Linked DNA regions of Homo sapiens. The protein of the gene in region 2 interacts with the protein of the main gene of each other region in a pairwise test. Each region holds a gene or a part of one and is shown on either strand. Other genes may lie near its edges. The genes, in order: GATM and SCGB1A1.

Evidence for each region.
Region 1: the proteins of SCGB1A1 (region 2) and GATM interact in binary tests that used the Homo sapiens proteins (3 or more experiments, as listed by UniProt).

What each region holds. Positions count from the first base shown.
Region 1 is NC_000015.10:45,367,397-45,377,534, forward strand, and holds part of GATM (glycine amidinotransferase, mitochondrial isoform 1 precursor), read right to left. Parts: intron 9,424-10,138; coding exon 9,205-9,423; intron 2,126-9,204; coding exon 1,930-2,125; intron 865-1,929; coding exon 674-864; intron 1-673. UniProt on the Homo sapiens protein: Transamidinase that catalyzes the transfer of the amidino group of L-arginine onto the amino moiety of acceptor metabolites such as glycine, beta-alanine, gamma-aminobutyric acid (GABA) and taurine yielding the corresponding guanidine derivatives.
Region 2 is NC_000011.10:62,411,546-62,422,032, reverse strand, and holds the start of SCGB1A1 (uteroglobin precursor), read right to left. Parts: upstream 3,001-10,487; 5' UTR 2,938-3,000; coding exon 2,883-2,937; intron 1-2,882. UniProt on the Homo sapiens protein: Binds phosphatidylcholine, phosphatidylinositol, polychlorinated biphenyls (PCB) and weakly progesterone, potent inhibitor of phospholipase A2.

The DNA.
Region 1 (10,138 bases), on a different chromosome or scaffold from region 2:
ACCGTACGGAAAGTAAACAGGATGAAGTCATTCTGTTCTTTTAGAAAAGGAATTTGGTCCCGAGCTTAACTCATACCATAAAACGAGATGCCATGTTTCCCCTGCCAAATTTGATTGGGAGTGGCAAAACTAATTCATTATTTATTTCTGTCTTTAAACCCAGAAGCTATTTTGATTTTTAAATTTTTTTCTATAAAAGATCAAATGGTAACTGATTTAATAAGGGACATACATTTCATTTTACTGTGAATTTGAACTGTAGATCAGGTTCTTTTTCTAGAAGAAGAAAGTGAACTTCAGTCTAGTGACTTTTCTGGTTCCACTAATGAACAGTGGTACACCTGTAGGCAAGTTTTTCCCCATCTAATGGAATGATACTACAGTATGATTAGGGTTGTTGTGAAAAACAAACAGGATTGAGGATGTAAATAAAGGGTTTAACCCAGGACCCAGAACAAGGTAAGCACCAAAAAGTGTTAGCCATTATTATTATTATCATAGGATCATTTACTCTTATCATATTCATCATAAAATAATCACTTTTTAAAAATAAGATGATGTTTTCGGTTTCTAAAATGCATAATATATACAAGGTATCAGAGAATCTCTATCTTACTCTTTGTGGATCATTTAGAAAAGTTAGTAATAAGCTAGCCTATAATTAGGGACTCACCTGGTTATAAAGCTCATCAGCCATTGTGGGCTTAGGAGCTGTTGTCCACTTGGCGCCACGGTGGAAGTAGTCTTTGATAATTGACCTGTACGCTCGGTACTCAAAGAAGCGTGAACGCCATGCCATGGGAGCCTCGATAATCTCATTGCCCACAACTATCAGGATGTCTCGAGGCATTGCACTGTATAAACCTGTCAGACCAAAAAATTCCATGACAACTTCAGTAGTGTTAATTTCCAAGACAAAAAAGGTCTATATAGGGCCAGGCACAGTGGCTCATGCCTGTAATCCCACCACTTTGGGAGGCCAAGACGGGCGGATCACTTGATCCTCTTCAAGAGCAGCCTGGCCAACATGGTCAAGCCCCATCTCTACTAAAAGAATACGAAAACAATTAGCCAGGCATGGTGGCACGTGCCTGTAATCCTAGCTACTCGGGAGACTGAGGCAGGAGAATCACTTGAACCAAGAGGCAAAGGCTGCAGTGAGCCGAGATTGTGCCACCACACTCCAGCCTGGGCGACAGAGTGAGACTCTGTCTCAAACAAACAAACAAAAAATGTCTATATAATATTACCTCTTTTTTTGGTTAAAAAAATTGCTAGAAATACATGTGTGTATATATATATGAAAATAGCAAAAAATTCGAATAACACATACTAGATTGTTAACATGAATTGTGTGGTGGGGGGGAAGCCCAGAAAAAAAAGAAAAGAAAAAAAAGTGAAGGAATAAAGTCCTTGTACAAAGAGATCTTGAACCACCAAGCTTTCACCATTTGTAAGCTCCTTTCTTGCTATACAGAAACACAGCTCTTAAAGGACTATCGGTATCACAAGATAAAAATTGAGCCAAGGATCAATCTAAAACTAGAAATTAGAACAGTGACCTAAGGCACAAGAACAGTCATGCAGCAATGTCAGTTAAAAATAAAATGGAAATGTTTCTATTCCCCTTTTAATTTCTGTTCTTGAGGAAAATTAAACGAATCCACTGTTATTATGTAAGGAAATGGCTATAAAGTTTAGGAAAACTTGTCATTTCAAGGAGATTCCACGAGATGGAATGGAGTTTAGAATGTATACATCTTAATCATATCAACATGGACCAAACCATTCCTAAATAAATCTTTAAAGTTTTCAAGAACTAGCAAAGCAAAGGACTCTCCAAGAAATTTTTTGGAGCTTTCCCCTTACACATTAAGAAAGAAATTGAAAATTCAGACACTGGCAGTTTAGTTATCTGACATCACTTACCCGTAGACTCAAAATCAGGAGTTTTATACTTCAATGACCAGTCAATGGGGTCAGGCCTCCTTACTGTCACTCCTTCCGTTTTTAAAATATTGCACATTTCTTCAATTTCAGCAACAGCCTTTTTCAAATGATCTTTGGGAAAATAATGCCCTCCTTGCTTCTGGTAAAATGGCCAGTACTTTTCATATGTGTTGGCCTGGAAGTAGAAGCAAATAAACACAATACTTACAGGAGAAAAATACAGCTCATGATAGGTTCATAGGCAGTAAACAGCTCTTTGTATAAGGTATTGGAATTGAGACTCCAACCACTCCATGTTCAGTGCTGATCCCTAGCATTGAGCACATAAGCCCTCTGGGCAGACACTCAGTATCTGTTGAATGAAGAACTCTAAAACATCTTGATATTTTGAGGCCTTTTGCTCCTCCTGCCTGAGATCTCATGGCCAACCACTAACAGCATGTTTACCTTCAGACAGACTTGGAATCCTCTTGGCCAGTTTTTTTGCCATGCTTTGCAGACAAAACAGGACATAGCACTTCTATTAGAGAGCCTCAATAAAATGAAACAAGAGAACACACAAACTAGCATAAGAGAATAAAAGCACTTATACTAAGCCAAAACCATGGGCTATCCATGCATCTCAGAATTCTGTCTAGAAAATAGCACCTCAAGATATTTTGTGAAGGGAAAAAAAAAGATATTTTGCCCCGTTAAGATCAGGAGCATACTTTCAAATATGCTTTATTTCTCTTAAAACCCCATTATTGGCCAGGCATGGTTGCTCAGCCTGTAACCCCAGCACTTTGGGAGGCTGAGGCGGGCAGATAGCTTGATGTCAGGAGTTCAAGACCAGCCTGGCCAACATGGGGAAACCCCATTTCTACTAAAAATTCAAAAATTAGCCAGGCATGGTGGCACGTGCCTGTAGTCACAGCTACTTCAGAGGCCAAGGCAGGAGAATTGCTTGAACCCAGGAGGCAGAGGTTGCAGTGAGCTGAGATCGTGCCACTGCACTCCAGCCTGGGTGACAAAGCGAGACTCTGTCTCAAAAAAAAAAAAAGAAAAAGAAAAAGAAAAAGAAAAAAAAAAACATTATTGATTTTCCCATTCAACAGAATTAACACTTGCCAAAATTGTGTGACAGTGCAAATCTGCCTTTGGTAATTCCCTGTCAATATGCCTCATACCAACCACACCTCTCCTTTTTCTAATCCATTCAGCTCTCACATCTCTTCAAGTCTTTTTGTCATACAAGGAAGTGATATGATAAGCAAATTCACAAATTTTTAATAACTGAAAAAAAATTTAGAAAGTTTCCAGGGCTATGTGTATTTTAGAAGACAACTAAAGAGAAAACATTTGAATGCTTTAAAATGGCTCAATCAGTTTGCTAAAAATTATTGTTGAATAGGGTAGGTGCAACAGCTGTTAAATATTGTTGTTTGTTTGTTTTTGTTTTTGAGATGGAGTCTCACTCTGTTGCCCAGACAGGAGTGCAATGGCACCATCTCAGCTCACTGCAACCTCCGCCTCCCACCAGGTTCAAATGATTCTCCTGCCTCAACTCCCTGAGTAACTGGGATTACAGGCGCATGCCACCACGCCCGGCTAATTTTTTGTATTTTTAGTAGAGACAGGGTTTCACCATGTTGGCCAGGCTGGTCTCAATCTCCTGACCTCGTGATCCACCCGCGTCGGCCCCCCAAAGGGCTGGGATTATAGGTGTGAGCCACCATGCCCGGCCAAAATATTGGTTTTCAAAAATGTAAAAATCTAGACAGATTCTGCATTCAGATTGTTTTCCAAATGTCTAAGTTCTTAGTCAATTTCTCAATCATAAATACATTGAGAAATGTACGTGATGCATCTTCCCATTTTTCAAGCTAAATGAAGCAGAACGCCAATCAGAGAATCCAGACTCTAAGAAAAAGCCTTGAACCTTCATCAAAAGATTAGCAAAGCAATGTACATTGATATATTTTAAGTTTAAAAATGTTTTAAGTGTTTTAATTTAAATTTTTGTTTAAAACTGGTTAAAGCAGGTATTTTAAAAATGTTTATTTATATAATTGATGAACTGACAAACTACTAGTCCTGATCATGTCAGATATGACAGTCTCCACCATAAATCAGATAATTTCAGATAGCAATAAGTACTAGAAAGGTGTAAAACTTGGTAATGGGCTCAAGTGTGTCACAGTGTGTCTACTTTAGCTGGATATTCTCATTTGGTTTCCCAGCAATCCTATCAAAGAAACAGGGCAAGTTCTCATATGCTTATTTCACATGTAAGGAAAGAGGCTCTGGCAGGTCACATGCTTGCTAGCTATCTGGACAAGCAGGACTAGAACTCAAGTTCTCTGACTGTTACTCAAAGAGTGTCCCTAATACATCATGGGACTTGGCCATGTTATACTGGTTTGAACACTTCTAACTAGATGTGCAAAAACTTTTAAGACTGGAATTGCTTAACAAGTTCAAATTGTCCCAATGGCTTTTACTCATCAAGACTGATCAAATGTCTAGATGTTTAGCTCTTTAATGTCAAAAACAATATCTTTTCTAGATTTTGTGTCTCGACTTCCATTTTTATCTCAGTCTGACAAATATCAAATATATGAAAGTGGACCCATCTCTGGTTAGTTCAATATCCAGGTTCACATCAGTTACGCTGGAACCTAGCTTGGTGAATAAGGAATAAGCCAAGAAACAGGTCTTTAGAAAAACTGAATGATGCCAGTGAAAGTCTTAAACAGAGGCTGGTAAAAAAAGGTCCATAGGCAAATTTGGCCTGCTGCTTGTTTTTGTAAATAAAGTTTTACAGGAACGCAGGCACATTCATTTGTTTACGTATTGTCTATGGCTGCTTTTGCACTACAATGGCACAGCTGAGAGTTGAGTAGTTGCAACAGAGACCGATGGTCTGCAAAGCCTAAATTACTTATTATCTGGTAGAAAGATGAAGTTTGCTGACGCCTGGGGTCTGAATCATTAATTAGCTCTTTTACTAAGGTCTATAGGCAAACAGCAGGCTGAATTTCTGGACTAATGAAAAATGTTATCATCATTAAACATTTTTAAAGACCAAGCTACCCTTTCAAAAAACAAAATAAAAGCACTCCACTGTTTTCTACTCCTAGGAATTTCTGCAACAGCAACCAGAAAGAGGATAATAATGACTCTTTATATTCCTCTCAGATACATGCTGGTACTACTCATCCATTCACCACTTCCTCCTTCTCATGCCAGGCACATCTCCTACAATCCACTAGGGACAAGAAGCCTTTGAAAATTTAACACTGGGTTACAGCAGATGCAGAGTTATGCTGTCTTGCCAGACTCATTCCAAAGTATCCTCCGTGACTATTTGTGCAGGGTGAAGCTTGCCTTGATAAATTAAACCTTCCTGGGAGAAAAAGGTTATTTGAACAAATGTGATTTTTTCTTGTAGAGTTTATAATCTGGCAAAGGTTGGGCAAAGTACAAATGATCAGGGCACAATACGTTTTACAAGAGATAGCTAGAAATTGTTTACACTTCCTTTATAACCCTGCTAAATGAGCCAGCAATCATTCACCAAGTTGTTTGCAAGATGATGAACACTATATTAGACGCTTAGCATATGATGCTTTTAATAATCTGTTGCAAAGGTATGTCTGCATTCCTTGAACCTTTATATTCTTTCAAAGCCTAAAACCCTTTACAAAGGTTTGCCAAGTGAATTTTTAAATACTGTCTTTGGAAGGCTAAGAAATGACAACAGAAATGTATTTATCCAGCTGTAAGCTTATATTACACTAATCTTGATTAATCTTGTATTTTATAAAAGGTCCTTTATCAAGGGCTTTATTTTTAAAAGACAAAAGCAAAACAAAAAACATATTTGAGGCTGGGCACGGTGGCTCACCCCTGCAATCCCAGCACTTTGGGAGGCCAAGGCGTGTGGATCACGAGGTCAGGAGATCGAGACCATCCTGGCTAACACGGTGAAACCCCGTCTCTACTAAAAATACAAAAAAAACAAATTAGCCAGGCCTGGTGGGGGACACCTGTAGTCCCAGCTACTTGGGAGGCTGAGGTGGGAGAATGGCATGAACCCAGGAGGCGGAGCTTGCAGCGAGCCGAGCTCACGCCACTGCACTCCAGCCTGGGCGAGACAGCGAGATTCCATCTTAAAAAAATATATATCTATATATATATATATTTGATAGCAGATATTTACTATATTTTGCAGAACAAAAAGTCACAGAGCTTTAAAAAATTATGCTTCCCAACAATTATGTTCCACATTCCTTTCCTTAAAATTTCTCTAGTACTTATATCTTCCAACATCTTCTGCTCTGATTGCCTATGGACAGTTTACTACATTATTTTTTCTTTTATTGTTCCCAAACTGATTAATATATGTGTCATTCTTCTCTACTACGAGGCATGGCCTTGCTTGCTAGGATCCATGCATGTCTTAGATTTACTTTCTTCTCCCTCAAAACCAGGCTTAGCACATGGCATGAAACAGAAATAACCATTATTTCCTGTCTAGAATCAAAGAGAGAAAGAGAAAGAAGAATAAACAAACAAAAAGAACCAGACGAATGAAATCAATACTGCTAATGTTACTGATATCTACAACTATTACACCGACAAAGTACCTTTGGAATGTAATTGGCAAACTGGATCCATACAACTATAATAAGTTGTTGTGTTGTCCTTTAAAATACTTAACATGTAACCTTTTATCTTTAGATTAATCCTTAATCCTGTTAGGTAGATAGCAAACTAGCAAACCTCTTAATATCTTCATTTTACTGTGGCCCAGAAATTTGTGGAATCTTGTACAAGGTCAAATAGCTAAGTAACCGAGACTAGCTATCAAGTTTTTATCAAATACCTAATTAATCCCAGACTCCTGACTTCAGCATGGTACTTTTTCCACAAGTCCATGAAATGACAAAGTCTAAAGTCATAAATCAAGTGACAAAGAACTCAAAATTACCTCTGAGAATTCTGATTCTGTAAAATCGCATGATATGAAAGTCTATCATTTTAAAGACAAGTAGAAGGATAAATTATTGCTTGGATTTAAATTTTAATTTCACCCAATTAAAATGGTTAGGGGATGGGACTTTTCAAGAAAAGACTTAAAAAGACTACTATGCCTTTTAAAAACATGTGGATGGTGTATAAATTAATCTTCTCATCAAATTCCAAATATCAGAACCAAAGATAGTTTCAGAACAATTAGAAGTTATTACTTTTTCTATTTCCCTGTCTTCCAAGTCTAACTCAGGAGTCATTTTCTTCAAGAGGACTTCTTAACTGGCCAGCCCTTGGTCATTCCTCTTTCCTGGCACTTCAACTGCCTTGTCAGTCGACTGGAATAAGATACTTGGTCTTCGTTTCTATGTGAACATCAAATCTCTTCAAATAGAAAGGAAGATCTTTTATATTAATACCTCTAGAGCCCTGGTACATGGTAGGCAATATTTCTGAAGACCACGACAATGCTGTTACAGAACTTCTTTCCTCAATCCACTTTACAAATAAAAGTGTAAATATTCAGGAAAAATTTAAGGACACTAAAGATACATTTGTAACCCATTATTAATAGGAGTCTAGGCTGTGTCTACAATGTGGAAAGTGGTCCCTTAGATATGGAATCCTTATGCAGTATAGAACCTGAACACCAGCCCATAGAGGCCCTGGATATAAGAACGTTACAGATAAAAACCACTAGGAGTTTTTGTTTGTTTGTTTGTTTTTGAGATGGAGTCTCACTCTGTTGCTCAGGCTGGAGTGTAATGGCGCCATCTCAGCTCACGGCAACCTCTGCCTCCTGGGTTCATGCCATTCTCCTGCCTCAGCCTCCCAAGTAGCTGGGACTACAGGCACCCGCCACCACGCCTGGCTAATTTTTGTATTTTTAGTGGAGACGGGGTTTCACCGTGTTAGCCAGGATGGTCTCGATCTCCTGACCTCGTGATCCACCCGCCTCAGCCTCCCAAAGTGTTGGGATTACAGGTGTGAGCCACCGCGCCTGGCCACCACTAGGAGTTTTTAAAAAGAGAGATATTACTTGTTGCCAGGGAAATCCTGGAAGACTTTGTGAAAGGTGTCATTGAAGCTAGGTGGTGGTAGGTTTAAACTACAGACTAAAGGGCACAGGAAGATGGATGGAAGAGACTTAGGTAGGGGCAAAGATGCAGGGCTTGTGAAGAAACAGTGAGTAGTCTAGCTTAGCTGCCTTATATGGTTGTCTTATAAAGTCTGCTGAAAACCAGGGTGGAATATTAGAGGATAGAGGGACTTGACCAGAAATGAACACCTGCTAATCTGCTGTACTAACAGATGAGTCAATAACTGGAATGGGGAATCCTGGAAATGCAGACAAGAGTCAGATTGTGAAGGATCTTGAATACCATGAAGACTTTATCCTAAACAATGCGGGGGGTGGTGGGGTAGTGGGGGTCGCCTAGCAAAGTACAGGAGGAAAAGAAGCAGGATGAGTAACATGATCACATCTGAGTTTTAAAAAATCACTTGGATTGCAGCTGCCAGGTGATTTGGTGAGAAGAGTGAGTAGGAGTGACCAGTTAGGAGTTAACTGCAATAGTCCAGGCAGCAGATGAGCTCCCAACCTTTAGGGAGAGGCAAAGCAGAGGAATGAGGCAAGATTCATTTTTGACAAAAGCCTTGTTACATCACGTGACATAAGGAGAAATCAAAGATGATTCTTTTGTGTTTTAGCTTGATTAAATAGGAATGCCAATAATTAAAAGGCAGGAATGAGGAGGGATCCACTTGAGCAGGTGGCTGGCAACTGAACTCCAGATGTGCCAAGTTTGAAGTCCTGTGGCAATATCCCGTAAGGAGTTTAACTCGTTGATCTGGAAGGAGTTCAATACAGAGATCCGGACCAGAGAGGAGGTGGGAGCGGTAGCTGTGAGAATGGCTAAGAGAAGGGGGCTGAAAGTAATATTCTGTTCAACCTTGCCATTACAGGCTGTGACGGAAGAAGATCTGAGGACAGTGAAAGAACTATTATTCCCAGAAAAGCTCTCTCAGAATCCAAGGGAAGAGCTTCAGGAAGCTCTTCAGGAAGGAAGCAATTATCATTGGTGTAAATAGTGTCAAATACCACAGAGGTGTCAAGTAAGATAACTTAATCACTGGATTGAGAGGTCTGGGAGTAAGCTGAAGGGAAAGCAGTCAGAGGGTAGCAGCAGCAGGTGAGGAGGGAGCGCACTTTCAGACATGTGAATAGCCTTCCTTTACCTTCACCTCGATGGTGAACGGTGGAACACAGGCGTTTTCTGCTCTGCCCACTATCACTTCCTCTAAGGGGTCCCATTCGTTGTAAGAAGAGACAGGGCAGTCCTTGGGCAGAGGCTCAGTGGCTTTGTCGTCAGCTGCACAGGAGTTCCGGGAGGAAGCCGTAGCTGCCTGGGTGCTCTGGAAAGTTCGCTGCACCCATCCTGTCAAGGTTCGTCCAAGCTTCCAAGAACAAAGAAAAGATTATTGTATTGCATTGCTCTATCAGTACTTACAGAGAGGAGGAAGTGGAGATGGAGTAAAAATCCAGCATAACATTGCCACTTAAACCCCTTTAGAACAGCATAAACCAAGACGTTAACAGTGTGTAGGTGGGTAGTGGGATTACAGATAATTTTTTTAACCCTCTTGTTTATCTACAAATTGTCTTCTTATCTATTAATTGCTGTAACTCTTTAAAACTCCTCAGAAGACCGTGTCCCCAGCTACCATACACCCCCATCTTTATCTCAGAATGCAATTCCTGCACTCAAGCTTTAAGCAACTGTTTTGCAGATGGGTCAGTCCTCCTCTCAGAAAACCATAGACAGCTGCTCTAAAACTTCCCGCCAGTCTCAGCTGGGGACGGAACCTCCTTTTCCCTTAAGTATCAAAGGTTACCAATATTAGGCTTTTTATTTATTTTTTTTTACAAATGAAAAGTTGGGAACATTTGTAAAGGACCTTATCTTTCAGAATAACCAGCTTCAAATCAAATTTTTTTCATCTTTGACATACACTTCGCATTCTTTGGCACTTCAATTCTGAGAGTGAGCAACTGCCATCTGCTCCATTTTACAGATGGTCCACAGTACCCTAGCCAAGGTCAGGATTAGCTCAGGCGTAAATTCAAACAAATAAGAAGGAGATCTAAAAACTTCAAAAGCCTTTTAAAAAT
Region 2 (10,487 bases):
AGCAAGGTGCCGTTTTTCTTTCTGTTGGAGATCAAGGCAGAGTATTGATCATAGAAGCTGCTGGCCTGATTTTTTAATGCAGTGTGGAGGCTGGGAAGAGGCCACTGAGGGTTTTATTTCCCACCAGAAACTTGCCTCTCATCAGTGGTTAGAGATGCCCTGAGCCATGCTTCACTGGGGGCATGTGACAAATTCAGGCTCTGGCAGGAAAAAGCGATTGTAAGCCAGGCACGGTGGCTCACACCTGTAATCCCAGCACTTTGGGAGGCCGAGGCAGGCAGATCACGAGGTCAGGAGTTCGAGACCAGCCTGGCCAACATGGTGAAACCCCGTCTCTACTAAAAATACAAAAAATTAGCCGGGCGTGGTTCTGGGCACCCGTAATCCTAGCTACTCAGGAGGCTGAGGCAGGAGAATCACTTGAATCCAGGAAGCAGAAGTTGCAGTGAGCTGAGATCTCGTCACTGCACTCCAGCCTGGGCAACAGAGCGAGATTCTGTCTCAAAAAGCAAGCAAGCAAGCAAGCAAGCAAGCAAGCAAGAGAAAAGAAAAAGAAGAAAAGAAAAGAAAAGAAAAGAAGCCATTGAGATTGTACCAGCCAAACATGGGCCCCCGAACCTGGCCGGGAAGAGGTGTGCACATGTGCACAGCGGGCCCTGTGGCACACTCAGCTCATGGACAGAGCAGCCACTTGTACCACTTCATTCCCTTCAACACAGAGCTTCCAGACTCTGTTTTCTTCTCAGGTCCTTACAACCAGGAACATGGGGGAAAGTCACCATTTTCTACCCACTGCTTGCCTCCATCTTCCCAGTGAGTCTCAAATCCCTTTTCCTTGAATTCTCTGCCTTCTGAACAAATTTGCCTTCCCTCCTCTGACTCTAGGGCCTCACTAGAAATTGCCACTCCAAGTCAGACCCTCTCCAGAACTTAGGTCCTTGATGTGTAACTTACTGTGTCACCAGGCAAGTCACTCTGTGTTTCTGTAGCTCAGTTTTCTCATCTGTAAAATGGGAACAATATCCCTACTTCATTTTATTTTTTATTTTTTAAATTTTAATTTAATTTAAATTTTATTTTTATTTATTTATTTGTTTTCAGACGGAGTCTCGCTCTATTGCCCAGGCTGGAGTGCAGTGATGCCATCTCGGCTGACTGCAACCTCTGCCTCCCAGGTTCAAGTGATTCTCCTGCCTCGGCCTCCCAAGTAGCTGGGACTACAGGCATGCGCCACCATGCCTGGCTAATTTTTGTATTTTTAATAGAGACAAGGTTTCACCATGTTGGCCAGGTTGGTCCTGAACTCCTGACCTCAAGTGATCTACCCACCTCGGCCTCCCAAATTGCTGGGATTACAGGCGTGAGCCACCGTGCCTGGCCCAATATCCCTACTTCATAGGGTTGTTGTAAGAATAAAAAGAGAGGCCAGGCATGGTGGCTCACGCCTAATCCCAGCACTTTGGGAGGCCTAGGTGGGTGGATCACGAGGTCAAGAGATGGAGACCATCCTGGCCAACATGGTGAAACCCTGTCTCTACTAAAAATACAAAAATTAGCTGGGTGCAGTGGTGCGTGCCTGTAATCCCACCTACTTGGGAGGCTGAGGCAGGAGAATCGCTTGAACCCGGGAGGCGGAGGTTGCAGTGAGCTGAGATCGCGCCACTGCACTCCAGCCTGGCAACAGAGCGAGACTCTGTCTCAAAAAAAAAAAAAAAAAAGAATGAAAAGAGATATTATGTGAAAGGGTGACAGTGATTGGCACATTGTGTGAAGTAAGTGTTAAATATTGTATGCATGTGCACACAAATAGACAAATGCATCTCTGACCCACCCCTTAACATGTTGCAGTCCTATCTTGCTCAGCCACCCACCTCTGTACGCAGACAGCACTGAGATCTTCTAATTAATACACATTTCAGTCCAAAATGATGTCATTTTCTCTGAAAAACAAATAAACCTCTCTGCAAAATAGTTGTTCCTACTGCTTCTTGGTTTGGGTTTTCTAACTCCCCAGGGTCATAAAACTTATCTCCATGGGTGTTGTGAAGCTTTCCAAGTGAATTAATTGGAGTTTGTTTATTAAAAAATAACAACAGCATTTTCAGATGAGAATGGAAGAGGCTGACGCAGAGTGAAAAACAGAGTTAGATAACCCAGTTCCCCAAAGACGGGGGATCTTGGAGAGAGCTGTGATCCTTCTTTCCTTCCTTTCTCCCCCTCTCTCCGTCTCTCTTTCTGCCCCTCTTCCCCCCACAGTTCTTTTCCTTTTAGTGACAGCAGCAACTACTCAGAGACTCCTAATCCCTTTTGCAGAGGACGGAAATGTTTAGAAAACTTCACTCTGGGTTGGCAGTTCCCCAAAGGGAAGCTCTCTTTCTGGAATATTCCTCTGTGCCCAGAATGAGAGACCTTGTCTTGGGTTGGGTTTCTTTTGGGGTCACGAGTCCCTGCAGCTCCCCTTCCAGTGACTTCAGCTGCCAGCATGGAGTGGAGACCCCAGACTTGGAGGCTGCACCAAGGTCTCAGCATCTTGGAGTCTGTCCAGATCTGGGATGAGGGCCTCATTATTCCTATGCTGGATGTACTCATCTTTATGGGGTATTCTCCACTCCTCCCTCCAGGCTATTCCATTCCCTGGGATTCTGAGGGTTGTTGGATATAGAAGATGGGACCCTTTTTAGGCTTCCTTACAGCCTGGGGCTCTCTCCAAGTTTCCAAGATGAGCTTGCTCACCAGACCCAGTTTTCTGAGACTCAGCATGCCCAGGTCCTCCCAGCAGCTCCAGAGCAGGAATGGGCAGCTCACTCCTTCTTCTGAGCAGAACTGGGGGGTCCTGAGAGTTCCTAAGTCCAGGAGGGAGGGAAGGGTCTCTGAGCACTCACCGGAGCTGCAGCAGAGAGCCAGTGTGACCAGGGTGAGGGTGACAGCGAGTTTCATGGTGGAGGAGGGGGATGCTCTGGCCCGTCTCTGGTTCCGTCTCTGAGTCTGGTGGGCTAGTATGAGACATGCCCAGCAAGGTGCCTTTTATATGCTCTAGGCAGCAGCACCCAGATGGGGAAGGGCAGGGCAAGGGCTCTACATAAGATACTGCACTATTTACTTGGCATTGGCTTGGTGGGATAGGTAAATATTCCCTTTTCTCAACCCAGTTTCTGTCCCCACTGAAACTGAGCTCACACAATGGGCCACTTGGGGGTGGAGGGCCGAGCCCTGCCTGGAGGCAGTGAAGGGAACCCAAGTCAGAGGATGTGGAAACCCAGCTGCCTGTGTCACTCACTGAACCTGGGCACTGGGGCAGTCCAGATCAAGAGAAGCAATTGTGGAGCCCACCTGGAGAAACTGAGGCCCAAGTTCCCTCACAAGTGGCAGGGACAGGACTAGGACTAGGACTCAGGACCCTGACACTCCACTGGGCTCTTTCATAGGCTCCCCTCTGAGGAGGGCGACTGAACCTTAAGCCAGGAAAGACACATGGTTTGGAGCATTGCTGTGGTCAGACTTCGGGGGCCCCTGGATTGAAGCATGTTGAATAAAAGGGACCCTTCCAGAATTCCCATCAGAAACCTGAGCCCTGCCCCAGGCTGGGTCTGTTCCCACCCAGAAGTGCTCTCAAGTCCTGTGCTCCTGATGGCCCAATTGGTGGGACCTTCAGTCCTTATCTCACTTGACCTCCCAATGGCCTTGACACCTGTGACTGCTTCCTTCTCGAACCATTCTCTCTCTTGCGCTCCCACGCCTCAGTTCTTTCCTGTTTTCCTTCTTCTGGCCATTCCTTCTTGTTCTCTTTAGATGTTTATTCTTTACTGTTCTTAAGTGTTGATGGTTCCCAGGCTTTGGCCTTCTCCCCTTTCTTGCCTCCAGTTGCCATTTCCTGGTTCTTCTCCAAAGCCCGGGCCTCATAGCACCTAACCTGGCCTGGTCAAAATCCCCTGACTCGACCTCCCTGCCTCCCTGCTAGCTCTCCTCAGCCATCCTCTGAAAGGCCATCAGAATGATCTTCCTAAAACCCACTGGTCGTGTCCTTCTTCTTGAAACCCTTAAACTCTTCCTTTTGCCTAAAGAATAAAATTCAAGTGCAATTTACAAGGCCCTTGCCCACTGACCTTTGCCTACCATTTGAACTTCATTTCTCCTCTCCCCCACACAACGACTTAGCCCTCTCTTACTATTTGTGGATTCGAGAATGTTCCATGTTTTTTCATGCCTTTCTACCTATGCACAAGCTAAGCCTCATGCCTGAATACACATTTCCTGCCTTGTCCACTTCGCCAAATTCTATTCGTACTTCAAGACTCAATCAAATATTGATCCATTCATTCATCCAATAAATGCTGACCACCTATGATGTGCCAGATGTGGTGCTAGGAGTCGGGAACTGGGGTAGATAGACATGGAGAGGCATTGCGTGGCACTTCAAGAACTCCTCAAAAATAAATAAATAAATAAAAATAAATAAACAAATAAAAGGCCAGACAGGGTGGCTCATGCCTGTAATCCCAGGACTTTGGGAGGCTGAGGCAGGTGGATCACCTAAGGTCAGGAGTTTGAGACCAGCCTGGCTGACATGATGAAACCCCGTCTCTACTAAAAATACAAAAATTAGCTGGATGTGGTGGTGGGCACCTGTAATCCCAGCTACTTGGGAGGCTGAGGCAGGAGAATTGCTTGAATCTGGGAGTCATAGATTGCGGTGAGCTGAGATCACGCCATTGCACTCCAGCCTGGGCAACAAGAGCAAAACTCCGTCTCAGAAAAAAAAAAAAAAAAGAAGGACCCCATTGTGCCTGAGGGCTTCGAAAGGGTTGCTGTGCCTGCAAAGGGGGCATTCAGGGGCCAGAGCACACAAGGCCTCGTTCTAAGGCCTTTACACTCAGAGTGGGAAGCTCTTGAAGGTTTTAATCAGGGAGTGACATGGTCTGATATCCCTTTCCTGATGAACTGACCCTGACTTGGGCAGCTGGGGGAATGGGGTGTTATTTCCTGACACAGAGAAGACTTGGGAAAAATAGGGTTGGGGGTGAAAATAGGGAGTGAAGCCTTCCCCGACAGGTGGTTCTGATGGGTGGTGACTCTCCCCATGGGCCTCTCTTCCCCCTCTGCTTACAGGGCCCATTATACAATATTTTAACTTTGCAATTCTTATTTTCTTGTATGACTCCTTTACTTGACTGACCTCCTTTAGGGCTGAGGCCGCTGTAAGCCAAGGTACGCAACGCTTGCTAAACAGGAATCCCTGGAATGAATCCATGCATGAGGCCTTTGTGCCATGTGACAGTTGAAGGCTGTGGTGACCCCGGAACCGTCCCACTCCGAGACGCCTTAACACCGGTAAGAGCACACGTTCTAAACTAGCAACCAACAAAGACTTGTCAAGTACGTTATGGTGTGTCCTTACAATGAAACGCTGTGTGGCTGAAAACAGAGAAAGAAGATCTTCTGAGCTGATGGTGAAATGATCTCCAAGGCAGACTGCAAAGGGGGAAAAACAAGGCATGAATAGAGCAAAAAAGAACAAAGAGAAGGCTGGGCGCGGTGGCTCACGCCTGTAATCCCAGCACTTTGGGAGGCTGAGGCGGGTGGATCACAAGGTCAGATTGAGACCATCCTGGCCAACATAGTGAAACCCCGTCTCTACTAAAAAAATACAAAAAGCTGGGTATGGTGGCGCTTGCCTGTAATCCCAGCTACTCGGGAGGCTGAGGCACGAGAATCACTTGAGCCCAGGAGGCAGAGGTTGCAGTGAGCCGAGATCATGCCACTGCACCTCCAGCCTGGTGACAGAGCATGACTCCGTCTCAAAAAAAAGCAAAAAGAATCCACATATGCATTTGCTTGTATTTGCATAAAGCATCTCAGAAGTGCCTTCTTTCTTTTAAGTTTCCTTCTGTGTCCCATCATCTGGGCTCTTGAGGTTAGCCCATCTTGAGGATTTCAGGTGTCTGCATCCCTCCCCTCTTAGGGACTGTTGAAAGGTGTAGCCTGCCTGTAACCCCAGCACTTTGGGAGGCTGAGGAGGGCAGATCAACTGAGGTCGTCGAGAGTTTGAGACCAGCCTGGCCAACATGGTGAAACCCCCTCTCTACTAAAAATACAAAAATTAGCCGGGCGTGGTGGCAGGTGCTTGTAATCCCAGCTACTTGGGAGGCTGAGGCAGGAGAATCACTTGAGCCCAGGAGGTGGAGGTTGCAGTGAGCCGAGATCACACCATTGCACTCCAGCCTGGACAACAAGAGCGAAACTCCATCTCAAAAATAAATAAATAAATAAACAAACAAACAAACAAAAGAAAGCTGTGGCCAATGGAGCTGAAATGGGCAAGGAAGATGAGCTGGACCACTGGGGGCACCTAAAGCCCATCCAGTGCCGCCACTAGTGGATCCCTCTGTGGGCAGTGGCTGGTCTGGCCGGGGCAGCTGTGATGGCTGCAGGGGTCTTAGGCAGGAGTCACATCACCCATAGCCTCAGACTCTGCTCTCTACTTTCCACCTTCATGGTGCGAGGTCCTGGGGACAGGATAGCTGGCTCCTGGGTCTTTGAGGAACTTAACAGCTAGGAGGAGAGACAGAGATGGGTGCAACTGATGGGAATGCTCTGTGGGGAGATGGAGGAAGTCAGAGAAGGAAATGGTGCTCCGGGAGTTGAAAGGGGGCTGCCCCCAGGCTGGGCGTGGTGGCTCATGCCTGTAATCCCAGCACTTTGGGAGGCCAAGGCAGGCGGATCACCTGAGGTTGGGAGTTCGAGACCAGCCTGAACAACATGGAGAAACCCTGTCTGTACTAAAAATACAAAATTGGCTGGGCTTGTGGTGGTGCTTGCCTGTAATCCCAGCTACTTGGGAGGCTGAGGCAGAAGAATCGCTTGAACCTGGGAGGCAGAGGTTGCGGTGAGCCGAGATCGCGTCACTGCACTCCAGCCTGGGCAACAAGAGCGAAACTCCGTCTCAAAAAAAAAGGAAAAAAAAAAAAAAAAAAAGAAAGGGGGCTGCCCCAAGAAAGGTAGCTGGGCAGAGGGGAGAGGGCACGTGGAGGGCTGGCATTTGAGCTGGCCTCTGGTGGATGGGTGATGCTGGTGGTTGGGGTGAAGCGGGGGATGTGCCAGGAGGAGGAAGCCACATGAAGGGGGCCCAGGCTCAGGAGGGGACCTGGCCATGGTCCGACATGCATGGGACAGATAAGCACACAGGTACAGTGGGAGTCTGGGGGCACCGGGGGCACTGGCCTTTCAGGTGCGAGGTTGGAGGTTTGCTCTGATTCTGGAAGGTACCTCGACTGCCACCACCAAGTGTCCCAGATAGGCTCTGCCATCTGGCCCTTGGGAGATCCTGCTTGGTGGCGGTGGGTGTTTCTCTCCCCTGCCTCAGGACCCTGCAAAGCCCCTGCTCTTCTGACCCTCTGCTTGAGATAGTGAGGCAAAAAGTGTGTTAGTCAAGGCTTGGAACTCAGAGCTTTTTTTTTTTTTTTTCTGGAAACGGAGTTTCGCTTTTGTTGCGTAGGCTGGAGTGCAATGGCACGATCTCAGCGGCTCACTGCAACCTCCACCTCCCGAGTTCAGACGATTCTCCTGCCTCAGCCTCCCAAATAGCTGGTATTATAGGCGTGCGTCACCACGCCCTGTTAATTTTCGTATTATTAATAAAGATGGGATTTCACCATGTTGGCCAGGCTGGTCTCCAAATTCTGACCTCAGGTGATTCTCCCGCCTTGGCCTCCGCAAGTGCTGGGATTATAGGCGTGAGTCACCATGCCTGGCCAGAACTCAGAACTTCTTAAACTCTAACACCTGCTCCTCAAATCCTTAAACTCTATACACTGTGAGTTCCAGGCCAGAACCCTCAAGCCTGACTTAGCATGTGGAGAGGACTGGGACCTGCTGTTTCTGGCCACATGTGGTCAGTTACCTACCTGGTCACCGTGCAAAGACAAACTGTTCCGAGGGAAGATAAGCCATGTGGCTATTAGTACCATGAGGATGGCAGTGAATCGGAACAGCTCCTGCCAAATCCTGCACCCCAAACCCTGTGTTGGCTGTGCCTAGATCTGGGGGAGCCCTGGTCCTTGGGTGGCTGAACCTTCCAGCTGGGGCAGTGGCTGGGGAGCCTGCTCTGAGCTCACCCCTTGCCCAGGCTCCAGCTGGGATGACGTGAGCACCTTTGGCCTGGCTCTGGCCTTTGAGAATGGAGCAGGAGAAAGAGCCTCTCCAGAGCCAGAAGCGGGAGGGTACTAAGGGGCCTGGAAGCCTCTCCTGGGTATTTGGACTACAAGGCCCTGGATCTGCTGGCCCCTCCTCCATGTATGGGATATGGTGGGTGCACATGTGGGTGCCAGGTTGTTGAGCCATGTTCAGTGCTCCTTGGGGAGCCCTGCCTATGTCCCCAGCTAGAGGTCTGGTGGCAATGGCAGGTGGGAGGGGTTGGGCCAGCAGCAGCCCCAGCCCATACTGCCAGAAGGCATTGGCTGAGGCCAGGTGCTTGCCCCCAGGTTCAGTGCTTGGTGTATTGTAATGAGCAGGAAGCTGGGGTGCAGTGTGCTGGCAGCTGGCTGGCTGCAAGTCCCAGCGTGGCCCAGACAACAGGTTGGCGGCCTGTTCCGAGCCTATCCATCCGGCTGGGCTGCTGGGGGAGGACTAGTCGGGCCATGGGCTTGGGTCAGCTCCCGGGGCAAGCCGTAGAGGTCAGCTTCCTCCCTCCACCCTGAGTATCCAGCTCTTCTAGTGCTCAGGAAATAACTCTTGAGCAGAGTAGGTTTTTCCTTAGGGGTTTGGTTCATTCTCTTCTGCCTTGGCAGCTCCTGGGGCTGACGCCTGCATTGATTGACCCAGGGACCTCCTAGGAGGAGCCTGGCAACCTCTGGACATTCCAGCCTTTCTGTCCACCAGCCACAATGCCTAGGGCCTGTGAGCCTTTAGATGGCCTCAAAAATGGTCATGTATCTGCTGGCTGCAAAACACAAAAAGAAAATCTCAAAATTGTAATTAATGGATATTGATAACAATTTCAACGAGTAAACTGCATTTTAGTTCAACTATTATGTAGTTGTATGCAAATGTAATAAAGTTTAAATTATATGTACCAAATGCATAATCCGTTTTTAGGGTCAAAATTATTATTATTATTATTTTTTGAGACAGAGTCTCGCTCTGTCACCCAGGCTGGAGTGCAGTGGCATGATGGCATGATCTCGGCTCACTGCAACCTCTGCCTCCCAGGTTCAAGCGATTCTCGTGCCTCAGCCCCCTGAGTAGCTGGGACTACAGGCATGCACCACCACACCTGGCTAATTTTTTGTATGTTTAGTAGAGATGGGGTTTCGCCATGTTGGCTAGGTTGGTCTTGAACTCCTGACCTCAAGTGACCCGCCCGCCTCGGCCTTCCAAAGTGCTGGGATTACAGGTGTGAGCCACCGTGCCCGGCCTATTATTATTTTCTGAGACAGGATCTTGTTCTGTCACCTAGGCTGGAGTGCAGTGGTGTGATCACGGCTCACTGTAGCCTCAAACTTCTGGGCTCAAGGGAACCTCCTGCCTCAATCTCTTGGGTAGCTGGGACTGCAGTTGTGTGCCACCACATCCGGCTAATTTTCTTTTTCTTTTCTTTTTTTTTTTTTTTTTTTGAGATGGAGTTTCACTCTTGTCATCCAGGTTGGAGTGCAGTGGTATGATCTCGGCTCACTTGTAACCTCCGCCTCCCAGGTTCAAGTGATTCTCCTGCCTCACCCTCCCAAGTAGCTGAGACTACAGGCAGGCGCCACCATGCTTGGCTAATTTTTTGTATTTTTAGTAGAGACGGGGTTTCACCATGTTGGCCAGGCTGGTCTTGAACTCCTGACCTCAGGTGATCAGCCCATCTTAGCCTCCCAAAGTGCTGGGATTATAGGCATGAGCCACCGTGCCTGGACACCTTTGATTTTTTCATGCTGTGGGATATCCCTTTTCATGGATGTAATGTCATCTTTGCAGGGATATAATGTAATTTAATTTTCCAGTGCCTTATTGATGGACGTTTGCACTTTTTTTTTTTTCCAGTTTTTCTGCTGTTACAAACCACAGAGCAACGCGTGTGCCTCCTCCCGCCCTGGGGACTCTTTCTGTGGGAGAGGTGCCTGGATTTAGAGGAGCGACCACTCTTCATTTGTAGGTACTCTCCCTAGCCTGGGAGCCCTTCAGCTCCCACTCCAGAGTGGTTGTTGGTGGTAATACGCCAGGCCTGGGGAAGCAGGAGTGGGAAGGTGTGAGAGGTGGGGGAGTGTGGTTGTCAACTGTTCTGATTTTCCACCAGGATCTTGGTCACTTTCCCAGTTGTCACTCGGCCCACAAACTAGGATGTGAGCAGCATATTAAGAATCTGCAGAGATGTTCCCGTCTGCCCGGCATATGGATGTCCTTCTGGGCTGCAAAGTGGCATCCTGTGGGCAACTCCCCCCACAACAACCAGCTGTGAGCTGTGCCCAGGCACAGAGGGACCTGGCTTTCCCTGTTTCTGCAGATGGAGC